Linked DNA regions of Homo sapiens: region 1 is linked to region 2. Evidence: fine-mapped expression QTL. A gene starts in region 2. The other region holds a variant in brackets. All regions are shown on one strand. Distances are from middle to middle.

Region 1 (15,572 bases), 28 kb after region 2:
AGATCAGCCCAGCCAACATGGTGAAACCCTATCTCTACTAAAAATACAAAAATTAGCCGGACGTGGTGGTGCACACCTATAGTCTCAGCTACTTGGGAGGCTGAGGCAGGAGAATCACTTGAACCTGGAAGGCAGAGGTTGCAGTGAGCCAAGATCGCACCACTGTACTCCAGCCTGGGCAACAGAGTGAAACGCTGTCTCAAAAAAAAAAAAAAAAAAAAAAAATTGTTTTTTTTTAGAGAAGCAATCCGTCGTCTTTAAGGAAAACTTAGAAAAAGAGTAGAAAGATAGAATAGAAGGAGATCACCTGTAGCCCCACCAGGTAAATGGGACAACTAATATGTTGATGTATTTCCTTCAAATAGCCATTGTATTCACACTGCATTGACAAATTACCATTGGCAAAATCTTTAAAAACCCCCTACCCCTAATCTATATCATCAAGAATTCCACTTTCGCCAAAGTAAACCTTGATAGTTTAATTTGTGTCTGGGACCCATGACTGTGGACAGGTTTAGGCCCCAGCAGGTCGTGGGATCCAGGAGAGACCACCAAATCGGGCCCCTCATAATGATCACACTAGACCTGAGGGAGGTGAGAGTCAGGCTACGGGTACCCGCCGTCACTCCCACCAGCTTTATTATTTTACCTTTCACATTGAGGTTTGTGATCTGTCTGCATAATTTTGGAGTATGATATGAGCTCATTCTTCCGGGTTTATTTTTTTTCCATGCAGATATCAAATTACTTCAGCTACATTTATTAAAAACATCATCCATTCCCCCAGCATGTTGCAGGGTCACCTTTGTCATTAATCAAATGACCTCATAAGAGTGGGTCTATTTTTGGATTCTCTCTTCTGTTCCATTGGTCTATTTGTCAATTCCGTACTAAATTTGCCAATTTTTGCCTATTTGCCTATTGCCTATTTGCCAATTCCATACTAAATTAATTATTGTAGCTTTCTAATAAATCTTAATATCTATTTAGTACAATCCTCCAACTTCGTTCATTAAGATTGTCTTGGCTATTCCTGGTTCTTTATATTTCTGTATACATTTTAGAATCAGTTCATCAATTTCTACCAAAGGAAATATGCTGGGATTTTGTTTGAGATTTAAATTAATCTGCAGGTTAACTTGGGAATAATTGACATCTTTACAGTATTGAACCTTCTCATCTATGAACATTCTTTAATATCTTTAATAATGTTTTGTATTTTCCAATATAAGGACTTTGTATTTTTTTGTTAGATTTATTCTAGATATTTTGTATTTTTAATGTAAAATGATATCTTTTTAAAAATTTCATTTTTTTTTTTGAGACAGAGTCTCGCTCTGTCGCCCAGGCTGGAATGCAGTGGCCTGATCTCAGCTCACTGCAAGCTCCGCCTCCCAGGTTCACGCCATTCTCCTGCCTCAGCCTCCTGAGTAGCTGGGACTACAGGTGCCCACCACCACACCCGGCTAATGTTTTGTAGTTTTAGTAGAGACGGGGTTTCACCGTGTTAGCCAGGATGATCTCTATCTCCTGACCTCGTGATTCGCCCACCTCGGCCTCCCAAAGTGCTGGGATTACAGGCGTGAGCCACCGCGCCTGGCCCTTTTTAAAAATTTCATGTTGTTACTGGTATGTAGAAATCCAGTTGATTTTTTAAAATATTGACCTTGAGCCTGGGCACGGTGGCTCATGCCTGTAATCCCAGCACTTTGGGAGGCTGAGGCGGGTGGATCATGAAGTCAAGAGATCGAGACCATCCTGGCCAACATGGTGAAACCCCATCTCTACTAAAAATACAAAAATTAGCTGGGCGTGATGGCGTGCGCCTGTAGTCCCAGCTACTCAGTAGGCTAAGGCAGGAGAATCACTTGAACCCGGGAGGCAGAGATTGCAGTGAGCTGAGATCACACCACTGCACTCCAGCCCGGGCAAGACAGCGAGACTCCATCTCAAAAAATATATATATATATATTGACCTTGAATCAGGGACCTTCTAAATTCACTCCCTTAATCCCAGTTTTATGTAGATTCTCCCGCATTTTCTACTTACACAGTTATGTTGTCCCACACAGTGTTGGCCTCACCACATTTCAGATGAGTCCTAGCTGCCTCCCTTTAGGTGGTTGATTGGTTGATTTTCCAGACCTAAGTGATGGCCTCTGGTTTCTAAAGCTCTACTCCCTAGCCCCCAAAGCCTGAGCTCAGCTGATTGCTTCTGCCAACTCCCACCCTCACCATCACCACTCCTGGCCCTGGGACACCCTCTGGGCTGTCCTTCTTTCTTCTCCAGCCTCCCTGCTGCCTCTGGGAAGAACTTGTTCCGGAATGGCTCACTATTAGAATGGACTCAAGAGAGGCTCCCAGAGTCAGAGACCATTTGCTAAAGATGCTCTCCCTGTGCATCCCCACAGCAAAAGCTGAGCGCTTGGGTGGGGCAGGGGAGTTGGGGAGAGGGCTGTTCTGGGGTGGGTGGTGGGGGGCGGATTCACCAGCTCTTCTTCAGCTGCAGTCTGTGTCCCTGCACCTCCAGAAGATTTCACAGAGCTAGGGAGGAGGGCGAAACAGGCAGCTCAACTAATCCAGGGATAGCAGGTCTATCCAAGGGACTGGGGGAATAGACCTGCTGAATAAAGACTCTTCTGTAGCAAAAGGCAAAGGCTGTAATCCCAGCACTTTGGGAGACCAAGGCAGGTGGATCATTTGAAGTCAGAAGTTCGAGACCAGCCTGGCCAACATGGTGAAATCCCGTCTCTACTAAAAATACAAAAATTAGCCGGGTATGTTGGTGGGTGCCTGTAATCTCAGCTATTCAGGAGGCTGAGGCAAGAGAATCACTTGAACCCGGGAGGTGGAGGTTGCAGTGAGCCCAGATGGTGCCACTACACTCCAGTCTGGGCGACAGGGCGGCAAGACTCCTTCTCAAAAACAACAACAACAACAACAAACAACAACAAAAAAGGCAAAGGCCAAAAGGAGGAGGACAAATTTTACCAAACCATGATGTATATATGGCGAGGTCCCCAGGTCCCAGACCCCTGACATCAGGCATGACCCCTTTGACTGGTAAGTCTGAGCAGAAAGTGGTTTGGTGTTACTCCCAGACTTGTATCTGCCCAAGTGCCAGTGTCTGGAGGGCCTGAGCTTCAAGACAGGGATTCAAAGAGAGGTGACATCACAAGAGAAACAACCGTCATGTATGGGGACTCTGCTTACTTCACACACCCTAAACCCTATGAGCTGTCTTTCATTAACCCCCCTGGCTCAGATCATTTCAGTTATTTGTTCAAAATCTCTCCAAATTATTAGTGGGAGACTCCCTACAACTCATCTGCAACTCACACAGGTTGTTTTATTCCAAAGGGCTTGGTCTGTAAGGGTCCTGTACATGTGGCTCTACCTCTAGGGGGTGTTCGGTGGATCCCGAACCTCAAGACCCAGAAGCATGGCTGACATTGAGATGTGACGTGGGCTCTGATTGAGTCACGCATGGTGAATTCCTAGTGGGGAACCACTGGCTGTCCAGGGTCCCTGCCTTTCTGCCAGCTGCCTCCCAGATCTGCGACCTCCTTCAGAACCTGCCAAAATGACTAGGAAAATGCTGTTTCCATAGCAAGAGCCAAAAGAGAACATGACGGCCCTGCACTCCAGATCTTCGGGCGGATGAGTAATCCAAGCTTTCAGTTCAAGAATCATGTTTCAGTTTCTTGAAGCCTGGAAGTGACCTTTTCAGATACATAAGAACCCAGTGAGCTGTTCTGAGCCTCTTCAGATCCAAAAGCATTCAAGAGGCAGCCCTGGCCCTGTCTGCCATCAACATGTGATCCCAGGTCCGGGATCCCCTGAAGGCGAAACTAGAGCAACCCTTTGGAAGTGTCCCTCCCCTTCCCAGGCCCCCAGTTCCCCACTCTCAGATCTACCCATGCTATCCATTGCAAGCCTGTGTCACTTCTGTGTATGCAGCTCAGCACGACCTTAGGCAAAGCCAGAATCAGCAAGGCACGGGACACAGGCTTGATTGCAGGTTAAGTGTTTTATTGTTTGTTTTTTGAGACAGAGTCTCATTCTGTTGCCCAGGCTGGAGTGCAGTGGGGCAATCTCAGCTCACTGCAGCCTCAGCCTCCTGGGTTCAAGCGATTCTCCTCCCTCAACCCCATGGGTATCCGGGACTACAGGCACGTGCCACCAGGCCCGGCTAATTTCTTTGTATTTTTAGTCAAGACAGGTTTTCACCATGTTGGCCAAGCTGGTCTCAAACTCCTGACCTCAGGTGATCCACCCGCCTCGGCCTCCCAGAGTACTAGGATTACAGGCATGAACCACCATGCCCGGCCCAGGTGATGTTTTACATAGAGCTCCAATACCAGAGAGAAGAGTGTCAAGGGGAGGTGGTGCTCTCTGCCTTCTCTGGAGAGCTTTACCCCTAAGTTAGCTGCCCCTCACCCACCCCAGGCTATCCTCTTGGCTCAGGGCCTTTCTGGAATTGAGGTAAAGCACATGGTAACCATGAAGGCCCTTTGGGGGCTCCCTGATACATAATAGTCCCACACCGGGCAGCATGTCTGTGATCAGCTGGTTGGCTTTTTATTAACGTATCATATTAACAGGTTCAACCATCCTGGGACAAAGCTGAGTTGTAATAAAAAAAAAAAGCCAACAAAAAAATAACTTTAATATACTGTTGGATTCAATTCGATAGTTTTAAGATTTTCATAGTTACGTTCCTAAATGATATTGAGTCAAATTTTCCTTTTCTTGCACTCTCCTTATCTGGTTTTAAGAATCAAGGTCATACTCGTTTCATAAAACAAGCTTGCTAACTTTCCTCCCTCTTTCCCCATTTTTAAAATTCGTTGACAGACAGTGGAATGATACTTGTAATGGGCTTTGGATTTTATAAAAACACACCCCCAGAGTCTGCCTGCTCCATAGGGGACTTGGCACAGGCAAGAAGACACCTCTTTTCCTTGTTTATAGTCTGCACTGGCTTATTTATGGCACGTTTGTTGTTTCTGGGACTGTTCTGCTGGGAGCCAGCCATTTCCCTGAGGAAGCAGAGATGGAGGTGGAGGGAAGCCCTAGGCTTCTAGGGGAGCTGTGCTGGGGGAGGGGAGGGAGCCCTGAACCTGGTGCCCCAGGCCCTGCTGCAGCCACCCCTCTTTCCCGGGAGGGAGCTCAACCTTACTCTGCACTTACAGGCACCATGTTCCGCAAGAAAAAGAAGAAACGCCCTGAGATCTCAGCGCCACAGAACTTCCAGCACCGTGTCCACACCTCCTTCGACCCCAAAGAAGGCAAGTTTGTGGGCCTCCCCCCACAATGGCAGAACATCCTGGACACACTGCGGCGCCCCAAGCCCGTGGTGGACCCTTCGCGAATCACACGGGTGCAGCTCCAGCCCATGAAGGTAAGAGGGGCCGGCAGGGATGAGGTTCAGCCTCTCCCAGTACTCAGACAACCATGCCTGGCTAAACCTCAGAAAGGCCCCTGGAGGAACCACCTACTTCACAGCTATCAGTTAATCAGCTGTTTTAACTCCCTGCCTGTCAGCCTGCCATTCTCTCCCTGGGTAAGCCAGGGCGAAGGAGGCTGGGGAGACCCTCTCTGCAGGGTGGTGGGGTTGCCAGATTCAGCACATGAAAATGTGAGATGCTCAATTGCATTTGTATTTCAGATGACAACGAATAGTCTTTTAGGACGTGTCCCATTCAATATTTGGACCTGCAGCCCCATAGGGACTGAGGGCTCTCCCAGACCAGGAGAATTTTAGTTGTGAGGGTCACGACTAGTAGACCCAAGAGCCTGGTAGAAGGTGGGGTCAGGGGCCCTATCAGGGTTTGGAGGCTGCGAAGCCAGTGTGTGTGGAGGAGCCCCCGGCCTGGTGTCTCTTCCTCAGAGGGCTGGGCACATCTCTCCCAGCCACCCGTGGAGCTAGAGAATGGAGCCCCGCCCCCTGAGCTCCAGCTCCCTGGCCCAGCCGACCACACCCCTGGGCATGCTGGATGCAGCCCCATGGCACTCACCATCTGCTCTGCTGACGCTGGGCCTTCTCCCCGCATCCCTGCATCCAGCACAGGCGGGACCCACGGTGGGCCCTGATAAATTATGGAAAAATTAATGGGTGGATGACACAGCAGGGAAGGTCCTTAGGTGGTCCTCCCCAGGGCCCCCAGGGACATTCTCTGACCCTGATCTCCCAGCCACCCCTCCCTGCCACAATTGGGCAGCTCCCACACACTCTTTTCTCTTCCCCCTACAGACAGTGGTGCGGGGCAGCGCGATGCCTGTGGATGGCTACATCTCGGGGCTGCTCAACGACATCCAGAAGTTGTCAGTCATCAGCTCCAACACCCTGCGTGGCCGCAGCCCCACCAGCCGGCGGCGGGCACAGTCCCTGGGGCTGCTGGGGGATGAGCACTGGGCCACCGACCCAGACATGTACCTCCAGAGCCCCCAGTCTGAGCGCACTGACCCCCACGGCCTCTACCTCAGCTGCAACGGGGGCACACCAGCAGGCCACAAGCAGATGCCGTGGCCCGAGCCACAGAGCCCACGGGTCCTGCCCAATGGGCTGGCTGCAAAGGCACAGTCCCTGGGCCCCGCCGAGTTTCAGGGTGCCTCGCAGCGCTGTCTGCAGCTGGGTGCCTGCCTGCAGAGCTCCCCACCAGGAGCCTCGCCCCCCACGGGCACCAATAGGCATGGAATGAAGGCTGCCAAGCATGGCTCTGAGGAGGCCCGGCCACAGTCCTGCCTGGTGGGCTCAGCCACAGGCAGGCCAGGTGGGGAAGGCAGCCCTAGCCCTAAGACCCGGGAGAGCAGCCTGAAGCGCAGGCTATTCCGAAGCATGTTCCTGTCCACTGCTGCCACAGCCCCTCCAAGCAGCAGCAAGCCAGGCCCTCCACCACAGAGCAAGGTAAGTCAGGAGCCTGGCCTGCAGGTGTCCACTGGGGAGTGGGTGTAGGGACACAGGCCTTGCCTAGCCTTCCCCTTGGAGGACTGGCAAAGAGGCTCCCTGGACTGCTTCCGCCTAAGGCGGCAGAAATGTGCACGGTAACCTCTTCTCTAAGGAGGGTGGCTCGCCTCCTCCTTCCCTCCCTTCCTTTCCTTCTTTTCTCTGTGGCTGTTGTGTTGTTTCCCATTTCTGTCAGTATTTGTTCCCAAGTGTGTGGCCATAGGAAAAGCTGGATTTGCCTAGTCCAGGGGCAGCAGGAGGCCGACTTGTGGCATGTGTGACTGCTTCAGACGCACATTTTTCTTGTGAGAAAGGAAAGGGTGAAGGGAGCCCCCGTGGTGACATTTCTTGGCAGGCAGAGTGGAGCGCACCTTTTTGCTTCTTCCAGGCCCTCCAGCATCCTGTTGATAGTGACAGTAACCTCTTTTCCCATTTGGCAGAGGAGGAGACTGATAGAGAGAGGGTGAG[T/A]CACCCCCAGGCATGATGGAGAGTGAGTCAGAGAAGGAAGGTGGGGAGTGCTCTGGGGCTGCCTGTCCGGCCCGGGCCCTCTTGGCTCATGACTCTTGCGTATGAAGGCTTTACAAGCACAGCAGCCACTTGTTCTTTAGCTCCTTCCTGGGAGGGTCAAAGGCAGTCCTAAGAAACGGCTGCTGACAGTGGCATGGGTAATGGAGCCTCCCCTCCCTCCTGGGAGGGCTTTAAGACAAGCCTGGGTACTCCCCTGTCATCGGTGGGGTGAGTGTGGCCCAGCCTGCACAGGGTGTGGGTTTGGGGATGACCCGGACTACAACCTCTCTGGGTCACTGCCTGCCAGCTGAGGTACTCAGAGAAAGTTCTGGGCGGCCGCGCGTGGTGGCTCACGTCTGTAGTCCCAGCACTTTGGGAGGCCAAGGTGGATGGGTCACGAGGTCAGGAGATCGAGACCATCCTCGCTAACACGGTGAAACCCCGTCTCTACTAAAAATACAAAAAAAATTAGCCGGGCGCGGTGGCGGGCGCCTGTAGTCCAAGCTACTCAGGAGGCTGAGGCAGGAGAATGGCGTGAACCCGGGAGGCAGAGCTTGCCGTGAGCTGAGATCGCACCACTGCACTCCAGCCTGGGGGACAGACAGAGCGAGACTCCGTCTCAAAAAAAAAAGAGAAAGTTCTGAGCTTTGTGCACTCTAGTCCCCTACTAGGTTAAAGGACAGTGGGTTGGGATCCCCATGGGTTGTGGCTTGATGTATCTGTGAGAGGAACACGAGCATCTGTGAGCTGCAGGGTGTCTGGAAGGCTGTGCCCCTGGGGAGACTCAGCCAGAAAACCAACGTAAGATCAGGACAGTGCACCCTGCTGGGAAGGTGAGATTCGGAGCTTGACCTCCCTCTGTCTCTCAGGAGTCCTGCTGCGAGGCCTCAGGGATTTGGAGAAAGGGGTTGTCAACACTGGGCTGGGCACTCATTTGCATCTTTCTGGGCTCCTGCCAGCACCCCACAGCAGGGGGAGAGGCCTGTCCATCCCTGCACAATGTACTGAGTACTCACCATGGGCCACTGCTGCTGGGTATGCCGGGATGTCCCCCATACTTGTGGGAGCAGGCGGTAGTTATCTCGAGCTCAGCAACACCATACTTCCAAATCCAGGGGAGTGGTTTCCTTCTGGGCAACTCAGACACATCTTTCAAGATTTCTACTCTGAAGCCAAGCCTCTCAATGGCAAGCTGAGACCCCCCGAGCTGCTCCGGGCCGGGGCTTCTCAGCGTCCTCACTGCAGGCGCTCAGGTCAGTCCATCCTTTGTGGTGGGCTCTCCTTGCACTGTAGCAGCCTCCCTGGCCTCTACTCACTAGAAGTTGGTGGTACCCTCGGTTGGAATAACCAAAAATGCCTCCAGACACTGCCAAATGTCACTCGAGCACACCCATTAAGAACCACTGCCTTAAGCAAATTCAATAACAGATGGGGAGCATCAGCCTTCCTCCTCCTCCTCCACCACCACCTACCCCAGGAGTCCCCAGATCAAGCCAGCAGCCCTTGGCACTGGGGCTGACTCTGGACACTTGCAGCAGCTTCCATAACAGCAGTTAGGCCACAGAGGCCATGCAGTGTGCCAGGCATGGCTGCAGGAGGGTCTGAGTATAGACTCCAGGGCTCCTGTACCTAGCCCCAGGCAGTGAGGCCTGGAGTCACTCTAGCTAAAGAGATCAGGAAGACAGGGCGTGGGGGCACAGAGACCAAAGAGGCAAGACAGTTTTTTAGGAGCTTGCAGGGATTAGACATGTTCCACTTAGAGTCAGAAGGGCAAACATTGGTTAAGCACCTACCGTGTACTCCGATATATGTCAAGGATACATGGCACCAGTGGGATTGCAGCATGGGAGTCAGCAGCCACGGGCGTCCTGCGGGTTCCAGTGCCTACAGGACAACCAAACAACCCACAGGGTTATGAGGATTACATGAGATAGTACGTTGAAGGCACTTGTCAAAGTGGTAAGCCCTCAATAAATGGCTTTATTAGTAGTATTTGAGATGGCGTCTCCCTCTTTCGCCCAGGCTGGAGTGCAGTGGCACAATCTTGGCTCACTGCAACCTCCACCTCCTGGGTTCAAGTGATCCTCCCACCTTAGCCTCCCAAGTAGCTGGGATTACAGGCACGCTCCACCATACCCAACTAATTTTTGTATTTTTAGAAGAGATGGGGTTTCACCATGTTGCCCAGGCTGGTCTTGAACTCCTGACCTCAAGTGATCCACCTGCCTTGGCCTCCCAAAGTGCTGGGATTACAGGCACCTGAGCCACCATGCCAGGCCGGCTTTATTATTTTTAAAAATATTATGCCATGGCCTCTCCCCTTTAGGATACTTAAGGTATAGCCCCCTAAGCCCACAGCTGGGGAGCCATGGCTCAGGGCGGGAAATGAGGCATTGCTGTAAATGTATGCATGACTCTTCTAGTGGCTTTCTTCCCAAGAGGTCTATCACATGAGTAACTTCAGAATTAATCCAGAGCCTGTAACAATTAATTAATTCTGTTGTCGTGTCCCCCTTTCCCTTTCTTGTGTGGCCTCACAAGTTTCATCTGGTCCTTGCTTGTGATTACATTGATAAAAGCTCCCTCCCTGTGGAGACAGGCAGTGAAGCCAACGAAAGGATGCTAGAGACCAGACCTTGCCAGGCTGAAGACCAAGCCAGCTCCCCAGACTCCCCAGCCTATGTCCCAGACTCTGCTTGTGCTGGGCTCCTGGCTGGGCCATCCCTCCCCCAGCCTCCAGACGCAGGCTCCGCCCTGAGCCCAGCCAGCACCTGCAGCAGCAGCAGCAGCACAGGGACCTGGCCTGTGGAGACAGGGAAGAAACCCCTACCTCAGCCTGTCCACGTGGTACCCACACATCCTCAGAGTAGAGCTGGCCCATGCAGAAGCCCTCAAGGCCAGGAGGGGAATGATCTCATTTTACAGCCTTTCTTAGGAGCTTCAGGATGAGAGGTCATCAGAGCCACCTCAGGAGGAGCTTTAGGTGGTCCCCAAGCTTCTGCCCCGACCCACCTGGATGGGTGCCTGGAGAGCATGTTTTCTGAGTTAAGTCCACACTCAGGCCAGCAGGCAGCTTCCTTAGAGCCCCGAGCCTTTCTACAGGTTGACTGTGTGATGCAGTGAGCCCTGCCCCACTTCCCTCCCTGTCCCTGCCTGGTGACGTCTCATGGAACCTCTGTTCCCAGGACCTGGTATCACAGCCTCAGTCATGGCCATGCGCCCTCCACCCCCCTCACAGCCCTCCCAGAGGCTCCCTGAGGCCGTAAGATCATACTGCCCACTTATGCAGAGTTTCTCAAAGTATGTTCCATGGGCCTCCTAGGACCCAGGGACCTTGTTCAAATGCAGTCTCTGCTCTAGGCTCCCACCGAATCAGGCTCTGAGGCGGGAAGTCTGCGGTTTCTCTAGCTCCCCAGATCTCTGCACACGTCCCTGCATTGTAGTGGAGACAGGCTCAGAGAGGATGACTTGCCTAAGGCTCATCACAGGGCAGAGCAGCCCAGGGCTGGGCCCCAGGTCCTGACAGCCCAGTCCAGGGGTCCCACTGCTCCACTACACAGTGGATGGTGACAGTGTCACAGTGTCACAGTGGATGGTGACAGTCAGGTGCTGGCGAGGACATGGGAGAATGTTTACTGTCCAAATGTACTCATCAGGGATGGAGTGAGTCCAGGCAGTCCTGGGAGGATTGCTAGCTTCTTTCCTGTGAAGGTCAAGCACACACTCGGGTGGGCAGGCAGGTGTGGGGGTGGCAGAAGTCTGCCCCAGCATGGCTGTCGGCCAGCAGGAGTGCCTATTCCACCCTAAGCAGGCCAGGGACTTGGCTGGAGAGTAGAAGCCCTGAAGCTGCGGGGGGTCGGGGAAGGAAGGGAGTGAGGGTTGCCAAAGACACTGAAAAGACTCTGGTGGGGCCCAAGGCCCAGATTTGGGGTTTGGGGTCCCTGAGCAAGCATCCCAGCCCAAACTTACTGCTTGAGATTTCCTGTAAGTTGTTTCAGCTATGGGATCAGGACCAGGACCCACTGGGCACCTAAGACAATGGCTTACATGATGGGTTTGGAGAAGTTCCTAGAAGGCTTTTTCTGCATCCCCTGAAGCATCCCTCTCCAGGTGCCCTTTAAAAACACGTAATCCCTGGGAGGGGTCATGGTGCATATCACCGCTCCTTGGGGAGAACCCAAAGATGGGCGGGCACCTTTCCTGTCAGAAAGAGCAGAAGGGCTTGGGCTCGGAAAAGCAAGAAGCCTCGCAGGCTTCCAGGGCTGGGCCTGAGCAGGGCTCACTGGGGGCCCAGGCTGCCCCTCAGCTCCACCTTCCCTTCCTCCCTCCCTGCCAGAGCCAATGAGGATAGGCCCCCTACCTTCTCCTCCCTCCCGGGGGCTCCTTAGCCAGGAGTTTCATGCCAGGGAGGAAGTGGAAGGACTCCTTTAGGGGGTCCTTAAGACATCTCCCCATCCCTGGCCTCAAGGCTTGGGTTTGGCTGGACCTACCCTCCTAACTCCAGATCTCTCTGGCACCAGATTCCCAGCCCAGGGGAGACACCTGAGAACCCCCCAGATGGTGACACACCTCTGTGGTCCTCTGTCAGGGACATAACCTCCCAGCACAGATTTGCAAACTCCCTGCTGCAGGCACAGGCAGGGCTATCGGGCCCCAGGTGTGGCTCCCCTGCCTTGGTTCAGGGAGTGGAGACACAGTTGCCCACTGCTCCCCACCCCACTGCCAGGCCTCTTCTGCCCCCATGGGTCCTGGGGTGGGGGAGCCTTGGGAGTGAAGAATGCCTCTGACCCAGATTCTTCAAGCAGCCTCTGAGCTCAGAGGAAGAGTCTGCCTCACGGCAGCCTCCCTGGGGTCTAGCTGTCAATCGCCCAGGAAGAAATACCCAGCGCAGGACCCGGCGGGGAGCTGGCCTTCTCTGTCTTCCCAGGTGCAGCAGAGCGAGTGTAAGGAGCTGTCTTGGGCCTGCCCAGCCTGGTGCCCTGCGGGGGACTGCTGGCACAGGACTGTGACTGGGCTTCAGCTCTGTCTGAAAATCTTTGCTCAGAGCACCTCCCTAGTTTGATCTGATACCCCGCCTGACCCTGCCAGAGTCCAGAGGTCACGGCGGCCAGCCCCTGCCTCCGGGAAGGTTATTCCAAATGCTCCCACAGCCCTGACCCTTCCTGTTGCTTTGTCCCTGCAGCCCAACTCCTCTTTCCGACCGCCGCAGAAAGACAACCCCCCAAGCCTGGTGGCCAAGGCCCAGTCCTTGCCCTCGGACCAGCCGGTGGGGACCTTCAGCCCTCTGACCACTTCGGATACCAGCAGCCCCCAGAAGTCCCTCCGCACAGCCCCGGCCACAGGCCAGCTTCCAGGCCGGTCTTCCCCAGCGGGATCCCCCCGCACCTGGCACGCCCAGATCAGCACCAGCAACCTGTACCTGCCCCAGGACCCCACGGTTGCCAAGGGTGCCCTGGCTGGTGAGGACACAGGTGTTGTGACACATGAGCAGTTCAAGGCTGCGCTCAGGATGGTGGTGGACCAGGGTGACCCCCGGCTGCTGCTGGACAGCTACGTGAAGATTGGCGAGGGCTCCACCGGCATCGTCTGCTTGGCCCGGGAGAAGCACTCGGGCCGCCAGGTGGCCGTCAAGATGATGGACCTCAGGAAGCAGCAGCGCAGGGAGCTGCTCTTCAACGAGGTGGGAGGACAGGGTGGGACACAGACGGGGGCGTTGGGGATGGGCAGTGAGCAGCCAGCCAGGCTGGACATCTGTGAGCAGGGGCAGTGGGTGGCCATGCGTCTGGGCACTGTGCCTGGCACTCAGGCCCCCGCCTGCCCCCAGGTGGTGATCATGCGGGACTACCAGCACTTCAACGTGGTGGAGATGTACAAGAGCTACCTGGTGGGCGAGGAGCTGTGGGTGCTCATGGAGTTCCTGCAGGGAGGAGCCCTCACAGACATCGTCTCCCAAGTCAGGTGGGCAGCTGGGAGGGCTGGACCCTGAGTGCAGGCTGCCCTCACCATGGCCCTGCCAGGGCAATGTGGTCTTCTGCCTGTGGCCCAGAAGACTTGGGATGCCTGGGCTCCCCTGCCTGCTGGGGTAACTGAGACCCAGGGGTCTTGGGAGTGGAGAAGAGAAGGATAGCTTCTAGCCAAAGCTCAGGCCCCAGTTTTCACCAGGGCTATGGCCTGACTGTGCTGCCAAACAGATTGCCTGGGAGCTGTGGGGCCTAGCACCAGGGACTCCTACTCTGCTCAGCCACCCCACGACCTGCCAGAGCTAACGTTCTCTTTCATCGGGTGGCCCCACCTTCCTGTCCAGGCTGAATGAGGAGCAGATTGCCACTGTGTGTGAGGCTGTGCTGCAGGCCCTGGCCTACCTGCATGCTCAGGGTGTCATCCACCGGGACATCAAGAGTGACTCCATCCTGCTGACCCTCGATGGCAGGGTAGGTCCCATCCTGTCCCTGGCACAGCCACGCTCCCACTTCCTCCTGATCCACCACTCACTCCCTTTTCAACCGCAGGTGAAGCTCTCGGACTTCGGATTCTGTGCTCAGATCAGCAAAGACGTCCCTAAGAGGAAGTCCCTGGTGGGAACCCCCTACTGGATGGCTCCTGAAGTGATCTCCAGGTCTTTGTATGCCACTGAGGTAACCGTTCCCTCCACCCCCCAGACCTCCCAAAAGCAACTTGGCAACTGGCAGCTCTTCTGCTGTGGCCCCTCCAGTGAGCTCACCAAAAGCAGCCCTGGTTTTCAGAGTCCCACCTAGTCAACACCCTTCCCCCTTTCGATGGGGCTGCTCTTACCCAGTGACTTTGCTGCCAGGAACGAGTCCTGCAAGTGCTTTCCTCAGCTCAAGGGCAGAATGGGGTATGGCCGGGCCTCCTATGTATGATGGCCTTTCTCTGAGTGACTGACAGCTGTGTCCCTATAGGCAGTGGTCACTCATGCAGGCAGTAACTGGCCACAGGGCAGGTGACCAGGGGAGGAAGGAGACAGACCCACCAAGGAGAGCTGGGGCCAGCTGTCCCCCCTCCACCACTGCTGCCACCAGAACGCAGCTACCAATGGGCCAGGGTCTGGCCATGGGGTCAGGGACATTTTCCTCCTGCAGGTGGATATCTGGTCTCTGGGCATCATGGTGATTGAGATGGTAGATGGGGAGCCACCGTACTTCAGTGACTCCCCAGTGCAAGCCATGAAGAGGCTCCGGGACAGCCCCCCACCCAAGCTGAAAAACTCTCACAAGGTCAGTTGGCACACAAGGGTGCGACCTCGCAGACCCCATTCCTCCTGAGGCAAGGGGACCAGAACCTGGGCTCCCAGCATCTCCCTTCCACTGAAGCCACAGGGTCTGGGCTCCTGGAAAAGGCTCCTCTTTCCCCACACAAAACCCGCACCTGGGTGTGGAGCCGCATCTACGCACAAGTTCGCATGTGCGCTCCGACAAGTCGCCTCCCACGGCTGTGGCAGGAGAGTTGCTGCTTGGCAGAAGGGTTGCTGCTTGGCAGGCACTGGTCGGAAGCCCAGTGGGGCCCATGAGCAGGGAAAGCCAGGACACCAGCAATCCCTGCTGTCCAGGGAGGGATCCGGAGAAGCTTCACTGAGCACAAACCCTTCTAACCCGTGTCGGGAGATCCATACCATGATTCGATGTCCCTGTCCATCACGGCGAGTCGGCTCATGCTCCATCGTTGCACACCCCGACACAGCTAAGCCACAGCGTTCCCCTTAAAGCCAGTATAAGTGCATGGAAGTGTATACATGTAACCCTTTTTGCCAAATCGGCCCCAACCCCGCAGGCCTTACTGTGGACGCCCCCTGCTGGCAGGTCAGCACGGGGCTGCTAAGTGGCACCGCCATCTGGTGGCCAAAACAAGAAATGTCTCAGAGGGCTGAAGCCTCTCCTCTAAAATAGCAAAAAAACAAGAGTTCTGTGGCCCCAACACAAAGCTGGATGGGAGGACCAACAGGAAACATCTTCCAAGACAACTGGTCCTTGGAGCCCGCACCGCTAACCCCAAAATTAGCATATAAAGATCTCCAGTTGGCTAATTCCTCAGAGGATGTAGCCTTCTGCCCAAGACTCAGCCTCATCCCAAGATACTGGCTCAAAATGAACCAAGATAA
Region 2 (15,572 bases):
TGTATGGCAAGGGTTCAGCACAGCACATAATCTAAAGTATGTGCTCAAAAAAATAGTGTTTCACTGCAGGCTTTGTAGAGACCTTTGGAACCCTCTTTGAGTGGTCCCCAATCTTTCTGGCACCAGGGACCAGTCGCATGAAAGACAGTTTTTCCACAGATGGGGGATGGTGGGGGATGGTTTCGGGGTGAAACTAAATTCTCAACCTAGATCCCTTGCATGCGTAGTTCACAATAGTGTTCGCATGCCTATGAAAATCTAATGCCCCTTGCAGGAGGCAGAGCTCAGGCAGTAATGCATGCTTGCCTGCTGCTCACCTCCTACTATGCAGCCCGGTTCCTATCAGGCCACAGACCAGTACCAGTCCACAGCCCAGGGGCTGGGGACCCCTGGGGTGTCTTCTGGCTCCTTTGCACTACCTATGCCACCAGGCTTAGCAGCAGTCCTAGAAACAGGTGTATCAAGAAGACTCTGCTCCTGGTGGGCTGGGGCTGAGATGGCAGAGGCCCATCCCATCATATGCCAGAAAGAGGACACACTTGTGAGTCCAGGACTTGGGACTCTACAGTTTGCAGCTCTGCTCAGACTGGCTTCTGGGCAGCTCCTCACTTTGCCATTAACTCCTCAGAGTCAAGCCCCAGATGCCCCTTGGACCAGCCCCACTCCTAAGGTCATCTGGTCAGGGTCTGCAGGGGTGACGCTTTCACTGACAAAAGGATTTTAATTTTGGTCCTATCCCTAGTGTAGTCCCAGCCAGTCTTTGGTAGTCACCCACTTTTCCTGCTCTGACAGAGATGGGCCAGCCCCTCCCATAGGGGCTGCTCCCGGGAAAGGCTCATCCACAGGCTAGGCCTCTGCCGGGCCTGCTGCCAGCCACTGAGCCTTTGGCGATTGAGAGCTGACTCCCGACTGAGGTGTAGGCCTCCGTCCAGCCAGCACAAAGGGAGGCACATCCCTTGCAGCAGTACCCACAGCCCCTGTCACGGCAGGCTGTGGCCAGACCCTGATTGAGTGGCTCCCTCTCAGCCATCTGTTCAGTCACCCAGAAACAAGTCAAGTCAAAGCTCCCAGTGAGTTCCTGCCTCAGCCATTTGGTGTCACAAGGAAAGCCAGGGCGTTGCCACTTCCTGATTTGGGACAAGATGTGTAAATGCATTGAGCCTCAGACTCCTTATCTGTAGAACTTGGGGTAATGATAACTACTTCATGGTGTTTTAAGAATTCCATGGAATCACAGATGGAAAGAGCCTAGATGTACTATGCCTGACTCGTTGGAGACTTCACATAAAAGGGTTTTCAGCTGCTGCCACCCCCATCTTTTAAGTATTTTCACAATTCCATACACCTGTTCCTGGCAAAAAGAATTTCATTCCCTGTTCACTTACTTGAAAACCCCTCTTCTTTTTTTTCGAGAGAGAGGGTCTCACTGTGTTGCCCAGGCTGGAGTGCAATGGCCAAATCTCAGCTCACTGCAGCCTCAACCTCCCACGTAGATGGGACTACAGATGTGCACCACCATGCCTGGCTAATTTTATTTTTTGTGAGACGAGGTCTGTTGCCCAGGCTGGAGTGCAATGGCCAAATCTCAGCTCACTGCAGCCTCAACCTCCCAAGTAGATGGGACTACAGATGTGCACCACCATGCCTGGCTAATTTTATTTTTTGTGAGACGAGGTCTCACTGTTGCCTAGGCTGGTCTCGAATTCCTGGACTCCAGCAATCCTCCCGCCTTGGCCTCCCAAAGTGCCAGGATTAAGGCACGAGCCACCACGCCCAGCCTGAAAACCCGTTTTCCTGAGGGAAAACTGTTCTGGAAGTCAACAGCAGAGTCGCTTGCCAGGGCCACTTCTAATATTGATGAGATTCTGGCCTGTGCTCCCCTCCCTCATATCTTGTGTAGCATTGTGACTAGAGATTGGGTAAAAAGGGAAGACCTTGCCAAATGTTGCCCACCTGCTACCCTCTCCGGCTGTCTGCTGACGTTGGCCACTTGAGTCTCTTGTCACTGACTGTGCCCACCCTTGGCCCCTGCCAGCATCCTCCACACACCTTGCCCACAGGAGGACAGCTGGAGCAGGGCCACAGGGGAGGGCATGCAAGGGACCTATCTGACAAGGCCCTGAAACTTCCTTCCCACTGAGGACCCCAGGACTTGACCTAGTCATCCCCCACTTTGCTGCCAATACTTTGGGAGCAGGCAGATGTCCAGGAAGCGTCTGTTCCTCTGTACCCTCCCTGCCAAGGAAGGAGCTTGAGAAAAATCTCTTGAAGGTAGAGCCCCTGCTTCTGGCCTAGCTCTCCCGGAGGCGCAGGGCTGACGAGTGCCGCCAAGGTAAGACCAGCTCTGGAGTGTGGGATATACAGGCCTTCAGTGGCAACACCTGCTCATTAATCAAGCCCTTCCTTTCCGGAACCTGCCCTGGCTTGGGATGGTGGGAAGGAAGGAGAACAGAATCTGTTCCTCCCTTCCTGGCCCTGCGGTGAGAGGCGCTGACTAGTGTAGGTGGGTGGAGACAGGCCCATCAGAAGGCCTGAGTGAGGCACCCTCTGTACATGCAGCACAAGCGGGTGTGGAGTGTGGGGAAGCATCTAAAGATCTAGAAAAATTTGGCAGCAAAGGAATTTTACCCACACACTGGAGCCCTAGGCTTTGTTTCTAAAAGTTTTTATTATTCTTTAGGAAAACTTGGGAAGCACTAGTTTATGAAAATTTTTAGAACTTCATTGCTACATGGCCTTTCCAAACACATCCCCAGATGGTTTCTTTAAAACCATGCAGTGGGACAAGGTTGATATAAACAGTTGTTCCAGCTGAATCCAACTCACCAAAACGGTGCAGGTGAGGCAAATTACTTTTGAGACTGCAAGTACTGTATATGTCCATTAACAAAAACACAGTAAAAGACTTTAAGAAATTGTAAGGACACTGGCTTGACTGATTCATGCGGCTGCAAATCCCTGGGAGCCAAGATTCAAAGGCAGAAATGTCTGTGGTGACAGCACCACCACTGCCTTTGTCCAAATTACAGATCTGTCACACTCAGAGCTTGCTGCTAGCATGGGGCTGCCGTCGGCAGCAAAGGGAACTTCATGGATCTGTGAGGAGGAACAGCTGAGTTCCTGACTGCCTTTAATTTTCTCTGAGGCTTTGCTGAGTCACCTAATCTCTTGGGGCTGTGGTTTTCTCACCTGTAGAAGGAGGGACAGGGCTGATATCCCTAGAGTGCCTTTCAGCTCTGGGATTCACGCATTCTAAGGAGGGTGGCTAGAGCACAGAACCTCTAAAGATGTTCATTCATTCCTTCAACAAAGTTTACATGAGCACCTGCCATGTGCTAAGCACCAGGGCCGACCACTGGCCCAAAAACACAGGCATCTGCTGGCCTGCCCACTGCAGCAGCAGCCATACCTTTGCAGGCCGGTGGAGCCCCCCTTTCTACAGCCTGTGGAAAAAATGGTTCTAAATTTGCAGATCCTCTCATCAAATCAGGAAGTCAAGAAACATGATAGAATAGAGGAACTGGTCTCAGTTTGCACAGGCCATCAGTTTCACAAGACAGGAATCGAATATCAACAGTGGCTGATTATCACACTCAGGAATTGAAAATAATTAGAAAAAGAGGCAAAGATGCTGTGGCAATCATTGGCTGGTCCCCTTTGGTCTCCAGCACCCATTCCCCTTTGGTTTAGTAACAGCACCCTAACTTTCCTCCCTATATCGTGTGATAACAGAAGCACTCTCTCCAGGATACCCTCCCTGAGAGACAGGCATATGACCTGAGCCAGCCAATCAGACTCCTTCCCTGCAAGGATGCACTAGGTGGACAGCATGGTGGGAGCATCTCTCATCCAGGCAGGGGTGATCTGTGGGACTGCAGTCAGTCCTGTTGCTTAGAGACCCCAGGACTGCCATAGCTTCTGTCCTGGACTTGATTCTCCAGGCTAACAGAGAACCTGACTGATGCAGATTCAGGAGAGCTGGTTTGTTTAGTTCTCAGTTCCTTTCATGAAATGGCTATTATCTCTGCTAGCTACTATAGCAGAAATCTGGAAAACATGATTTTTCTTGATTTATGAAATTGTTGATGTTTCTTCAGGAATTTCCGCCTGCTTCTCATAAACTGGCAGAAACTTAGAAATGTTACATTTCTTAAAGAGAGTCATTGTAATTATTATCTGAATAAGATGATAGTGTTTTGAATTTAACGTAATAAACTCTATCTCCTGCCTTAGTGCCTTCACATCTTCATGTTGCCCCTCCCTCTAACAACATTTCTGAAAATTTGAAAGACATGAAGGAAGAAAAAGTGTTTTCCATATCCCCACATTGCCTTAAAGTGGACTTTGCAGAGGAAAATGTTCAAATATACAAGTTTTAGGTACTCTTCATAGCTCTTGGTTTTCTATTATTAGGGTTTGTTTGTTTGTTTGTTTGTTTGTTTTGAGACTGAGTCTCGCTCTGTTGCCCAGGCTGGAATGCAATGGCACAGTCTGCTCACTGCAATCTCCACCTCCCGGGTTCGAGCAATTCTCCGCCTCAGCCTCCTGAGTAGCTGAGATTACAGGTGCCCACCACCACACCCAGCTAATTTTTGTATTCTTAGTAGAGACGGGGTTTCGCCATGTTGGCCAGGCTGGTCTCGAACTCCTGACGTCAGGTGATCCACCCACCTCGGCCTCCCAAAGTGCTGGGATTACAGGCGTGTGCCACTGCGTCTGGCCTATTATTAGTTTTAAAAACATACATTCCTTTATTTTTACTTTTGTATTGTTTAAATACAACAGTACATGTTCACTGAAACAATGCAAGAGTGTAAAAAGTCCAAAGTGAAAGACCCCTCTCACCACCACTCCTATTTCCAAGGATAACCACATTGACAGTTTGCGGTTTAAACATACAGATATAGAAATATCTTTAAATAAAAAAACTTATATGAGATTATGCCATCTCATTTTCAAGTTAACATTGATAAACCTGGTCTTTTTGCTCAACTATCGTGGTCATCCTTCCTCATACATACGTATGTACATGCATACCGGTACACACATAGCTGGTACATACATACCGACTGACAAAACTCATTCATTTTAAGGCTGCAGATACTTCATTGCATGGGGATGTACCATCCTGTATAGATCTGTCACCCAATTAATCTGCCCAATTGATGCACATTTTGGTGGCTTCAAATTCTTTGCAGTTACAAACAGTGCTACCATGAATATTCTTATACAAATATCTTCAGGCCGATGTGCAACTATTTCTTAACTTGGATTCCTAGAAGTGCATTTGCTGGATCAAGTACATACACATTTTGAAATTTTGGTCAAGACTGTAAAATTGCCCTCCAAGAAGACTGTACCAATTCACTCTCCCACCTGCCATTTTTTTTTCACTGTATAATGACAGGGAGTGGTATATCCCTTTTGTTTTAGTTTGCATTTCCTGGATCATTCCTTAGTGAGACAGAGCAGAAGTGGATTATTTATAAGTTTACACACAAAATTACATTGAGATACAAAAAGAAGAAAAATACAGAGTTCCTCTCCAAAAGGAACTGATAACCTAGTTAAAGGGAAAATGTTTCATATTGACCACAAATTGAACTTTTTTTTTCTTTTGAGACAGAGTCTCGCTCTGTCGCGCAGGCTGAAGTGCAGTGGCACAATCTTGGCTCACTGCAACCTCCGCCTCCCGGGTTCAAGCAATTCTCCTGCCTCAGCCTCCCAAGTAGCTGGGATTACAGGCATGTGCCACCACGCCCAGCTAATTTTTGTATTTTTAGTGGAATGAGGTTTCACCATGTTGGCCAGGCTGGTCTCAATCTCTTGACCTCATGGTCCACCCGCCTCAGCCTCTCAAAGTGCTGGGATTACAGGCGTGAGCCACTGTGCCTGGCCACAAATTGAAATTCTTATGTTTAATGCCATGACATCTAACACTGCGTTCAATCAAAATGTCTACGCATGCAGCTTGAGACCTTTGCACAGAAGGTGCCTAGGGTCATGATTTGGGAAGATTAATCTGCCATCAGTGGAGGGGTGGATAAAAACTAATGTTTATTGGGATCAAGATGAGCAGTCTCTGTGCCAGAAACTTTATTCCTTTAATTTCCACAGCCCTGTGAGGCAGGTGAAATCATCCCCATTTTATGGATGAGGAAATTGAAGTTCAATTGGTTCAATAACATGCCAAAGGTCACTCAACTGATGAACAGTGGAGCTGAGATGCGGAAGACTGAAGACTCACAGCCTGGACTTTTAACCAAACACCACATGGCTTCGCTACAGAAGAAAGTTAGAAAGTTTTCAAAAATAAAATGTAGAGCCAAGTGCCACCTTGGATATAAGGGACTGGGGGACGGGAAGAGGCAAGAACTCCCAGGCTTCCCTCTGGCTGTCAATAGCTAGTGGGTCCTGGCAGTGGGAGCTGGGCCATCAGAGGTGGCGCCTGAAGTGGGGCAGGCACAAAATGGGTTTTCGGGCAAGCATTTGCCCAGGTGATGGTCAAAGCCACAGAAAAAAGGTGTTTTGATGGAGTGGTGGCTGAGTGTGGGGAGAGATGAGCAGGGGACCAAGCCTGGAGCTTGGGCAGCCCACGATTGGACACTAGGAGAAGAAAAGAAGCCAGTGGAGGAGACACTGAGGCTAGGGATGGGGAGGGCACTGTGGAAGGCTGGGCTCCACCTGGCGCTCCGGGGAGCTGGCAGGGGGGCACATCAAGGAGCTCAAGCTGCCTCACCAGCAAATGCCTCTGTTTCTGACCAGGGGCAATGAAATAAAGGGACCCGGTTGAGTAACTGGTTTCTGGTCCCTGCCAGCCCAGGAAGCCAGCACCCACCCTGCCTTACATCCCATGTGCCACTCTCAGCCTTCGAAGCAAAACCAGCTGAGACCAGCACCTGCCAGATCTGAATGCGCAGCTCCAAGTTCTGGGGGGTGGGGGTGGGGGTGAGCCAAGGAGGTCTGGCTTCTCTAGGGCAAGGGTAGGAAGGACAGCAGGGAGGCTCACCCTGAGCCCGGCAGGCAGCCCTTCCTCCTCCTCCCCTTCAGCAAAGAAAGGCAGATAAAAACGTGTTTTTATAAATAGCTCCAGCCCCAGCTGATTTGTAAATTCAGTGGGTTTTTTGTGTCAATGACATCACCTTCCTCCCCATGGCAACCCCCGACGATATCAAAATTGCCAAGCAACGTTGGAGCAGCTCGGCGCCCCAAACGAGCAGGTCGATGCCTGAGGATTTAATGGAGAAATCCCAAAGTGAGCCGGGGCGCGCGGTGGAGGAGGGGCGCGCCGCAGCCGGGGCCGCTGGGCCCTGATGGGCGGGAGCGGGGTGGAGCGGCCTCGCCTGCCAGGCAGCCCTGGGCGCGGGGCTCGGCGGCCACACTCTGGAGACAGCCACGGTCCAGGCAGGTGGGGGAGGGCGCTGCTCCCGTCCTGATGTGCCAGGAGCCGCCAGCAGCCATCCAGGTGACTAAGCCGGCCCACTAGCACTGAGTCACCGCCCGCCTCGAGCTGTTCTTGCTTCTCCTTTGCATCTGATTATTTTGGGAGCTGGAAACTTGGAGCTGCACCTGAGTCCCGCCCCTTCTAGCTCTCCCCTCCCTACCTTGGGCTCCAGGAAGATGGGACTTGCTGTGAGTCTGCTGCCACCCCCTAAAGATATGGAAGACGCTGTGGGGGCCAGAAGTGCCCGGGGGGCTGTGGCAGCAGGCAGAGTGCAATAGCAGATATGGTGGTCAGGCTGCCTGTGTGTGTCCTCTGGAGGTGTTGGGACAGAAGGGCAGTCTTGTCCGAGCTGACTGGAGTCCTCCCGGGCTGGCTCTGAACTCATCTCCCACGGGGATGTTTCGGTAAAGGAGTGGCTTCTGGGGTCGGAGTGGCATTTGGAGAGCGAGGCTGGATTGGCTTAGGCTGGCCTGGGCAGGTAGGTGGCTCTGTGTTGGGTGTGGACCCACGTGTGTGTGAGTGCGAGAGTGTGTAAGCCAGTGTGTGTGCCGTCCCCCTGCTGGGGACAGCAGCTGGGTCCAGCAGAGAGCTGGCTGGGGGCTTGACAGGAGTTTATCCTAACTGATGCTGGGTGGGCGCAGGCCCTGAGATGGGCGTCAGGGAGAGGGGACGCCAGACACACGGCCTGAGCAGGGTGAGGAGCAGCTGCCAGCCCCGGCAGGCCCAGGCCCTGTCTGGGTGCACAGGACAGAGACACAGCAAGATGCCCAGGTAGGAAGCCGTCCGGAGGGGCTGGCCAGGGTGAGAGCCCATCACTGGGGGGCTGGACAGCCCATCAGCTGCCCCTTCATTCTGGCAGGCCTGGGTACCAAGGAAACAGCTTCCTACCAAGAACCATGTCACTCTCTTATGCAGGGCCAGTCAGCACCCATGTGCGTCTCTGCTGAGCTCACAGGGACACATTCAGTGAGAAGGGTGCTGGCCAGGGTACGGCTTCCCCATGATCAGGACCCAGCGGGTGCCACCCTCAAGCCCCTGGTCCCCACAGGGCATGCCCCAGTGTGTGTCAGGAGGAGGGGGGAGGTCCCTTCTCCCCCACACAGCTGGCAGCTTTGCGGGCACCAGTGAGTAAGCTGCCAGAGGGAGGGAGGCTGTGTGCCCACAGTGGCAGGACAATACCAACCAGGAGCCTTCAAGAGAAGAGGCTGGGTGAGAAAAGCACTGAGGTTTTCTTTTCCTTTTTTTTTTTTTTTTTTTTTCTATTTTGCCTGAAGGGAGTGCCGCTTCCTGGGCTAGAGACAAGCACCAGCCTGCAGTGGAGAACGCAGGACCCCGCTGCCCAGAAGGAGCAGCCACGGTAAGGTCCCCACTGCCGCTGCGTGCTCCGGATTCCTGGGCTAGGGACGGGGGTGCCAAGGTGTCCAGGCTGCCTCCCACCTGGGACAGGGAGGCTAACTCCACAGCTGTGGGTTCCTGGGTCAAGGGGCTCCACTCCCCACCCGGCCTGCCACCTTCTTTCCAGATTGATTGTGAAACAGTCCAATCCCAGCTGGTCTCTGGCTCCCTAGCTAGAGGGAGAGGTGCTTGTTTCTACTCTTCCTGCCCCAGCTGGGCCAAGCCAGTGCCACCGGGACACCCCTATCCAAGGCCCCTCTCACTTTACCACCTCTGGGACATTTCCCTTGTGTATTCATTCCACAAATATTTAGGGAGCACTGCTGGGTCCCAGGCTCCAAGTCACACCCTTTGGCTGGGTTTGACCTGGCACAGATTCTGACTCTGAAACTCAGCATCAGGGCAGGTTCAGGGAGCTGCCTGGCCAAGCACGGTCACTCCTCACAGGCCTTGGTCTCCCCACCCCTGCTGCAGGGTGGATGACCTGGTCAGCTTTGGGGACATCGGGCCCAGTGAGCTCGGGTTTATAAAGCACTGGGCCCCACCGGGAAGCAAGGCTAACGTCTTGTGGTCTCCAGTTATCCTTTCCCTGGCATTGTACACCAAGAGGTTTGTGCCGTTCTGCCTGGGGTCTTCCTGAGGCTGGTTCTGGTGGGAACTGGGCTGCAGGAGGAGAGGATGAGCTTAGGAGCCGTGTGGCCCCCAGGCCTGGTGGGCCTGGGACTCAGCCCCACGGGAGCTCATCTAGCTGGGGTTGAGGCCTTTGGGGCAAGCAAGGAGTCCCCTCTGCAGGCAGGCTTCCCTGGCGGTTGTCCTGGCCCAGGCTTGGAGGTGGCACCTGGGAGCCCTAGTGACAGAGCGCCTGGTCAGGGAAGGGTCGGCACCAGAGGCAAGCCCTTCTGGGAGCAGCTGATTTGGATGGAAGCTCTGTGCACCTGAGAGGGGGAGTGTGGGGACTGCACGGCCTCTCCAGTGCCCCGAGGACAAACTGATGCTTTGTGAGTGCTCTGGGCCCTCCCGGACTTGCCAGACACAGGGAGGGTGCAGTGGGTGGGGTCTCCAGCCAAGGAAAGCCCGCTCTGTGCACAACTCCTAAGGATGACCAAAAAGTCCCCTGCCCTGGAGGAGCACATGTGCTCAGAGTCAGGAGGAACCCATAAGTGTCTCTCATGCCAGTGAATTCCCACACCTGGCTCCTGGATGAGGAGAATGACCCAGCTGTGGGGGTATCTCATGCTGCCTCACAAAAGGTGACTCTGTGCCTAGGAGTCTTCCATGCATGCAGAGCTGAGCAGGGGCTGCTGCCCAGTTGGGGTCAGAGGGGCGGAGGCTGTCGAGCACTAGGTAGACAGCAGGCCAGCAGCGGGCAGCAGGTTGGGCCAGGAGGGAGCAGAGAGTAGGGGCCAGGGCAGGCTGAGCAGGAAAGGAAAAGGCTGCCTGGGGTCCTGAGGGCTCAGGGAGGACTCCAGACAGCTGGCCTTCTTATGCCAGCCCGCTTCTGTGGGAGAGGCCCTCTGCGTAGGTGACTGGGCAGGGAAGAGGCTAAGACACTGAAAGATTGAATTCCTCACCCAAATGGCCCAGAGATGCCCACCGCACACAGTGTCCTGGGTGCAGAAGGCAGGAAGGACTCATGGGAGGCTGTCCTGTGGACTGAAGCAGAAAGTCCTTCCCGTAAGATGCGCTCGTCGCCCTGAGCAGGAAGGCCCAGGCTGCGGAAGCAGTGCCTGAGACCTGAGCAGCAGGAAGGACACCAGTAAAGCTCATCAGGAGGCATCTGGCCGCCTGCACCTACCGGGCCTCAAGGAGAGAGCTTATTTCTGGGAGCCTCCTTGGTAGAAAGAGGTGGACTAGCCAGCAGGTTGGGGAGGAGCATTGCAAATGGAAGCTTCTGAGGGCAGAATGAGTTCTGAACTTGCTGAAGCCAAGGCTGGCCCTCCTGCCCAGGGCGAGCAGTCTGCCTGGGCCTGGGAAGTTGTCCCCTTCTGAGGAGGTGCCCTCCACCCCACCAGAGCTCAGCCCTAGGGGCCAGGAAGGGCTAAAGCGAGAAGAGTGAGATGTGAGATAAAGGGGACCGTGTCTCTTCCTGGGAGGGTGTGGGGTCCAGGCAGCACCTTGTTCTGGCGCACAGGCTGCCAAGCAGATGACAGCCATGGCCTGACTACTAGGTGCAAGCACTGGTGGCAGGAAGAGGGGGTGGACAAAGCAGGACAGAGCTCTTGCCCTGGGGATGCTCATAGCCCTGCAGCAGAGCAGTGGAAAGGAAAGCTGAGCTGAGCGTGGGGCCAACCGCGCCAGAAACAAGCGGAGCCACAAAGCCACCATCAGCCCCCAGGTGGCTTCGTCCTTTTGCCAACTCTGGGTCCAACTCATCGCTGAAGTTGGCAGCCATGACCCATCCAGCCCAGATAATTTATAAATTTACACCAATACTGGGCAACGGTTCTTAACATAGAACTTTATAAAGATGGACAAAAAAGATAAGTTGAGAATGACAAACAAAGGAAGAAGCAGCTTCTATCTGCAGTTGCAGGAGGAGGTGAAGGCTCGGGGAGATAGACCAGGGCGGGAAGAGGCAGGATGGTGGTTGGTTAACATGAAGTCAGCAGCATGAGCCTCAGGCCCGGTGCTGCCTCTTCCTGGTGACTCGGGCAAGTTACTTCATGTCTCTGGGTCTCAATTTCCTCTCCTGTCCAACAGAGATAATTATAGTACCTATGAGTTAGGGTTGTTGAGAGGATTAAATAAGATAATAAGTGAATGCTCTGAATGGCATGACTGGCACATACGTACATGTTCAGCAAGAGATAACTATTATCACCGTGATGATAACTGGTGTCAGAGGAACAAAGTGCCAGGAGAGACCATACCTTGTTCGGGGGAATCAGGAAAGGCTTCACGGAGGAGGTGACTTTGAAAGAACCCTCCTCTGAGGAGAAACAAAAGCTCTCAGAATGCCCAGGAAAGCTGGGAAGAAACAATAATGCCAGGTCTATTTTTTTCCCAAATAGCATATTGTTTGTCCACTGAGGCTTTCTAAGGAATAACTTGAGACTCCTCTTTCTGGGGTCTAGACTTGGAGGTCTTGAGGACTTGAAGTGGGCTGCCCCTAGTGAAGGGATCGAGAGCCGGGCTGTGGCCCTGGCCCTACTCCTTTTGGGGACTGGAAGCTTTTTTCACATGCTGGTCCTAACTGCATGAGGAACTGTGTTCTGCTGAGCCCCATCTAAAGCATACACTTGGTGATGTGGCAGGCAGAGGGGCCAGACAAGGCCACGGCAGGCTCCTGGATCACTCTGGCAAGTAGCTTAGAAATGCCTAGTAATCGTGGGCAAGGTGCAGTGGCTCACGCCTGTAATCCCAGCACTTTGGGAGGCTGAGGTAGGCAGATCACAAGATCAAGAGATCCAGACCATCCTGGCCAACATGGTGAACCCCGTCTCTACTAAAAAATACAAAAAATTAGCTGGACGTGGTGGCGCGTGCCTGTAGTCCCAGCTACCCGGGAGGCTGAGGCAGGGGAATCGCTTGAACCCAGGAGGCGGAGGTTGTAGTGAGCTGGGATCGTGCCACTGCACTCCAGCCTGGCCACAGAGCAAGACTCTGTCTCAAAAAAAAAAAAAAAAGGCCAGTAATCGTGAGGTTCCATCTCAGAGACTTTTGTTTTCTCTTTTTTTCTTTTTATTTTTTTTTTTGAGACAGAGTTTCGCTCTTGTTGCCCAGGCTGGAGTGCAGTGGCACGATCTTGGCTCTCTGCAACCTCCGCCTCCCTGGTTCAAGCGATTCTCCTGCCTCAGCCTCCCAAGTAGGTGGGATTACAAGCACCCACCACCATGCCCGGCTGATTTTTGTATTTTTAGTAGAGATGGGGTTTCACTATGTTGGCCAGGCTAGTCTCGAACTCCTGACCTCAGGTGATCCGCCGACCTCAGCCTCCCAAAGTGCTGGGATTACAGATGTGAGCCACCACACCCAGCCTGCTTTTTCTACAAAGGATTATCTGTTCTATGAATTTAGGAAAGGTAATCCTAAAGCTTATTCACCTAAGAAAAACAAGGCAACCCCAGAGCATGACAGGCTTTCTTGGGCTGGGGGAACTCACATGTGAAAAAACAGGTTCCCTCATAACTACATGAGAGGCCGCAACTGCCTCAGCCCCAGCAAAGGGACACCTCTGCTGGCCAGCATTTCCTACAAAACCTCATCACGACACATCAGGCAGGGCAGAGACCCAAGTATTCACATAGGGCCAGTGATGACTTTTTTTGACACCTGTGGATTCTCCGTGGCAACCTATTCCCCAAAAGTGCTGCCTCGGTCAGCCAATCCCAGTGTCTCTCTGCCTAGGCAACAATCTCTTGTGCTCTGGTCTGCCCACAGCCTCCATGCACTCAGCTCTTTGGGCCTCTTGCTAAGGGGCTGGAAGCAGAGCTGTGTCCTTCAGGCTGTCAAGGACCTGGTGAGGGATCCTCTGGGTGTCCAGGGAAGCAGGTTCAGAAAGCTCAGTTCAGCTGGTGCTGTATTTTGATCTCTGATCCCAGTGCAGCGGGGACCAGCCTACTCAACTCAGTGCAGATAGCAACAAACCAGTCACCTTGCCCAAGACCTCCTGCTGCCTGCCTGCCTGCCTGGTGACCAGGACTCCTAAAGGCTGCAGCAGCAGCAGCAGAGTTAAAACTTTAAAACCGGGAGGACTGGTTCTGTGGCTCAGCTTCCTGGCCTGGAGAGGCTCTAGCCTCCATTTTCTTTCTTTCAGCTTATGGAATTGTGCAAGAAAGCACAGAGGGTGGAGGGAGCGAGGGGACCAGTTATGCCACAGCCTCCTGCACCACCAGAGCACAGTCTCAGATCAGCAAAGAGGAGCTCTGAGGAGGAAAAGGCTGCCCCAGGAAAGAGCTGGCCATCTCAGATTGCTGTAGCACATTCAAGCCAAAGGGAGTCCCCGGAGGATGTTTCGTCCAGCCCCCATAATTTTAGAGCGGGAAACAGAGGTCCAGAGAAGGAAAGTGGGTCCTGAGGCCACACAGCTAACTAATGGCAGAGTCAGTTTCCAGCCCAGGGATCCCCAGCTGCCTGCCCAGCACTCTTGCTACCCAGGCTGAACCCCCACCCCCGTGCTACCAAGGGGCCCATGCAGGAGCAGGCAGCAGCCACTGGGTAACTTGATGGCTTGGGAGAGGCGGCCTGGCCTGACACATTGGGAGGCTGGGCAGGTCCCCGCTTTGCTCCTATTGTGCTATTTGGGTGCCTCCTGCCATCCCCCTGCATTCTGCTAGACCTGAAACCACAGCCCAGCCCACGCTTGTCAGTCAAGTGCTTCCCGAGGATAAACTTTGCACACAGCACCCAGGCCACTCTTGGGGACCAGGCCACTCTCTGTTGAAGAGATCTAACTAATTTATAAATTGATTGATTGAAGTTCTTTTTGTCCCAGGTAACTTCATGTCTTAGGCCAAAGAAGGGAGTCATGATGAGTGCCAGAGATGAAACGGAGATTCTGGGGCAAAGGGTAGGGGAGGCACCTGGGAGGCCCTGTTCTTCAGGTGATCTTCTCATTAGTGTAGACTTTTGACCCCAGGCAGACATTTACATGTCCAATAGCCACCATCAGAGGTCAGTTCCCAGAAGCAGGAGGCCTGTCACTTGCCACCGGTCACCAGGCCCAAGCTAGACAAGAAGACTTTTTCTATTCCACTAGAGTGGATCTTGCTGATGATGTGTCTGGGATCCAGAAAGGTGGGGAGAAGTAGAGGTCTCAGCTCCTGGGGAGGGATGGAGCCAGCCCCGGGGGAAGAATGCAAGGCCGCCAGTGAGCAGGCATTCAGGGCTCCTGTCGAGGAGAGGGTGGTCAGGACAGGAGGAGGGGCTGCCTCATGGATGATGAGGTCCATCATCCTAGCAGAGGCTGTTGTACCAGCCACTGACGAGGGTGTGGCAGTGGTGTTACCAGAACCCTGCTATGTCAGCGTTCAAATACATGTCCCAGCAGGCCAACCACCCCTGCAGCAGTCAAGGGGTTCTGTCCGGTGTGTGCCAGAATGCTAGGGAAGAGAGGACCCTGAGAAGGATGGCAGCATGGCACAGACACGCCATGTGGCAGTTAGACAGGTCATGCCTTCTGACCCAGGGCACATGCAGAGGTCCACAGACTCTGAGGCCAGCTAGTTAGTGTTCCCAGGGGGCTGCACAGCCCAGAGCCTGTGAGTTTTGTGCATCTGGAGCTAAGGTGTTCTGCCCAAAGTGTTGGAGGTGGGCCTCAGGCAACAAATACCCTGCTTCCTCACATCCCCTTTTCTTCCTTGGAGCTTGGGCCTGGGCCCTCACCTAGTCAGGCACAGGCCTCCACTCCCCCACACTCACCTGTCCTTCCTGAAAGTCAGCCACTGGGCTCCACGCAGGGGTGTCACAGTCAGAGCCCTGCTCCAGCCTCAGACCTGGGGCAGTCACTGGAAACTCAGAAGAGAGAAGACAAGACAATGAAAGTTTCCCATTCAAGGAGGCATCCAGCTGTTAGTTCTGCCAGCAAAAATGCCAGCCAGAGAGCTAAACTGCCAGCAAAAGATATTTGGATGGAACTTTGGAGGCCATTAAGAGCAGGCACTGCAAAGCAATTGTAGCGAAAAGATATTAAATGAATCCATCACGTCTCTAAAATGAGTGTCCTTACCACAGATCTGGCTCTTGCTGTTCCCCAGCCCTTCCCAGGGTAGCCCAGGATGCACCTGGGACGGGC

Evidence for each region. PIP is the estimated chance that this variant, and not a neighbour inherited with it, causes the effect.
Region 1: its variant is fine-mapped to the expression of PAK6 in lung (TOPMed, PIP above 0.99). The same link has a PIP of 0.9 or more in subcutaneous fat.

What each region holds. Positions count from the first base shown.
Region 1 is chr15:40,259,586-40,275,157 of GRCh38, forward strand. BUB1B-PAK6 (BUB1B-PAK6 readthrough) reads left to right here. Exons shown (of 10, transcript NM_001128629.3): 3 at 5,196-5,404; 4 at 6,257-6,910; 5 at 12,639-13,136; 6 at 13,281-13,414; 7 at 13,761-13,887; 8 at 13,966-14,091; 9 at 14,557-14,691. The coding sequence starts at 5,201. PAK6 (p21 (RAC1) activated kinase 6) reads left to right here. Exons shown (of 11, transcript NM_001395430.1): 4 at 5,196-5,404; 5 at 6,257-6,910; 6 at 12,639-13,136; 7 at 13,281-13,414; 8 at 13,761-13,887; 9 at 13,966-14,091; 10 at 14,557-14,691. The coding sequence starts at 5,201. Among named protein-coding and RNA genes, the nearest start is that of PAK6-AS1, 14 kb to the left of the region's middle. RefSeq lists enhancers at 13,129-13,630, 14,352-14,852. The variant T/A (reference allele first, on the strand shown) is at 7,418.
Region 2 is chr15:40,231,881-40,247,452 of GRCh38, forward strand. PAK6 (p21 (RAC1) activated kinase 6) reads left to right here and starts at 7,183. Exons shown (of 11, transcript NM_001395430.1): 1 at 7,183-7,922; 2 at 8,719-8,801. The region is part of intron 1 of BUB1B-PAK6 (BUB1B-PAK6 readthrough); the gene reads left to right. It overlaps LOC107984763 (a long non-coding RNA gene), which reads right to left and starts at 7,821. Exons shown (of 3, transcript XR_001751506.2): 1 at 7,605-7,821. RefSeq lists enhancers at 10,444-10,943, 13,268-13,769.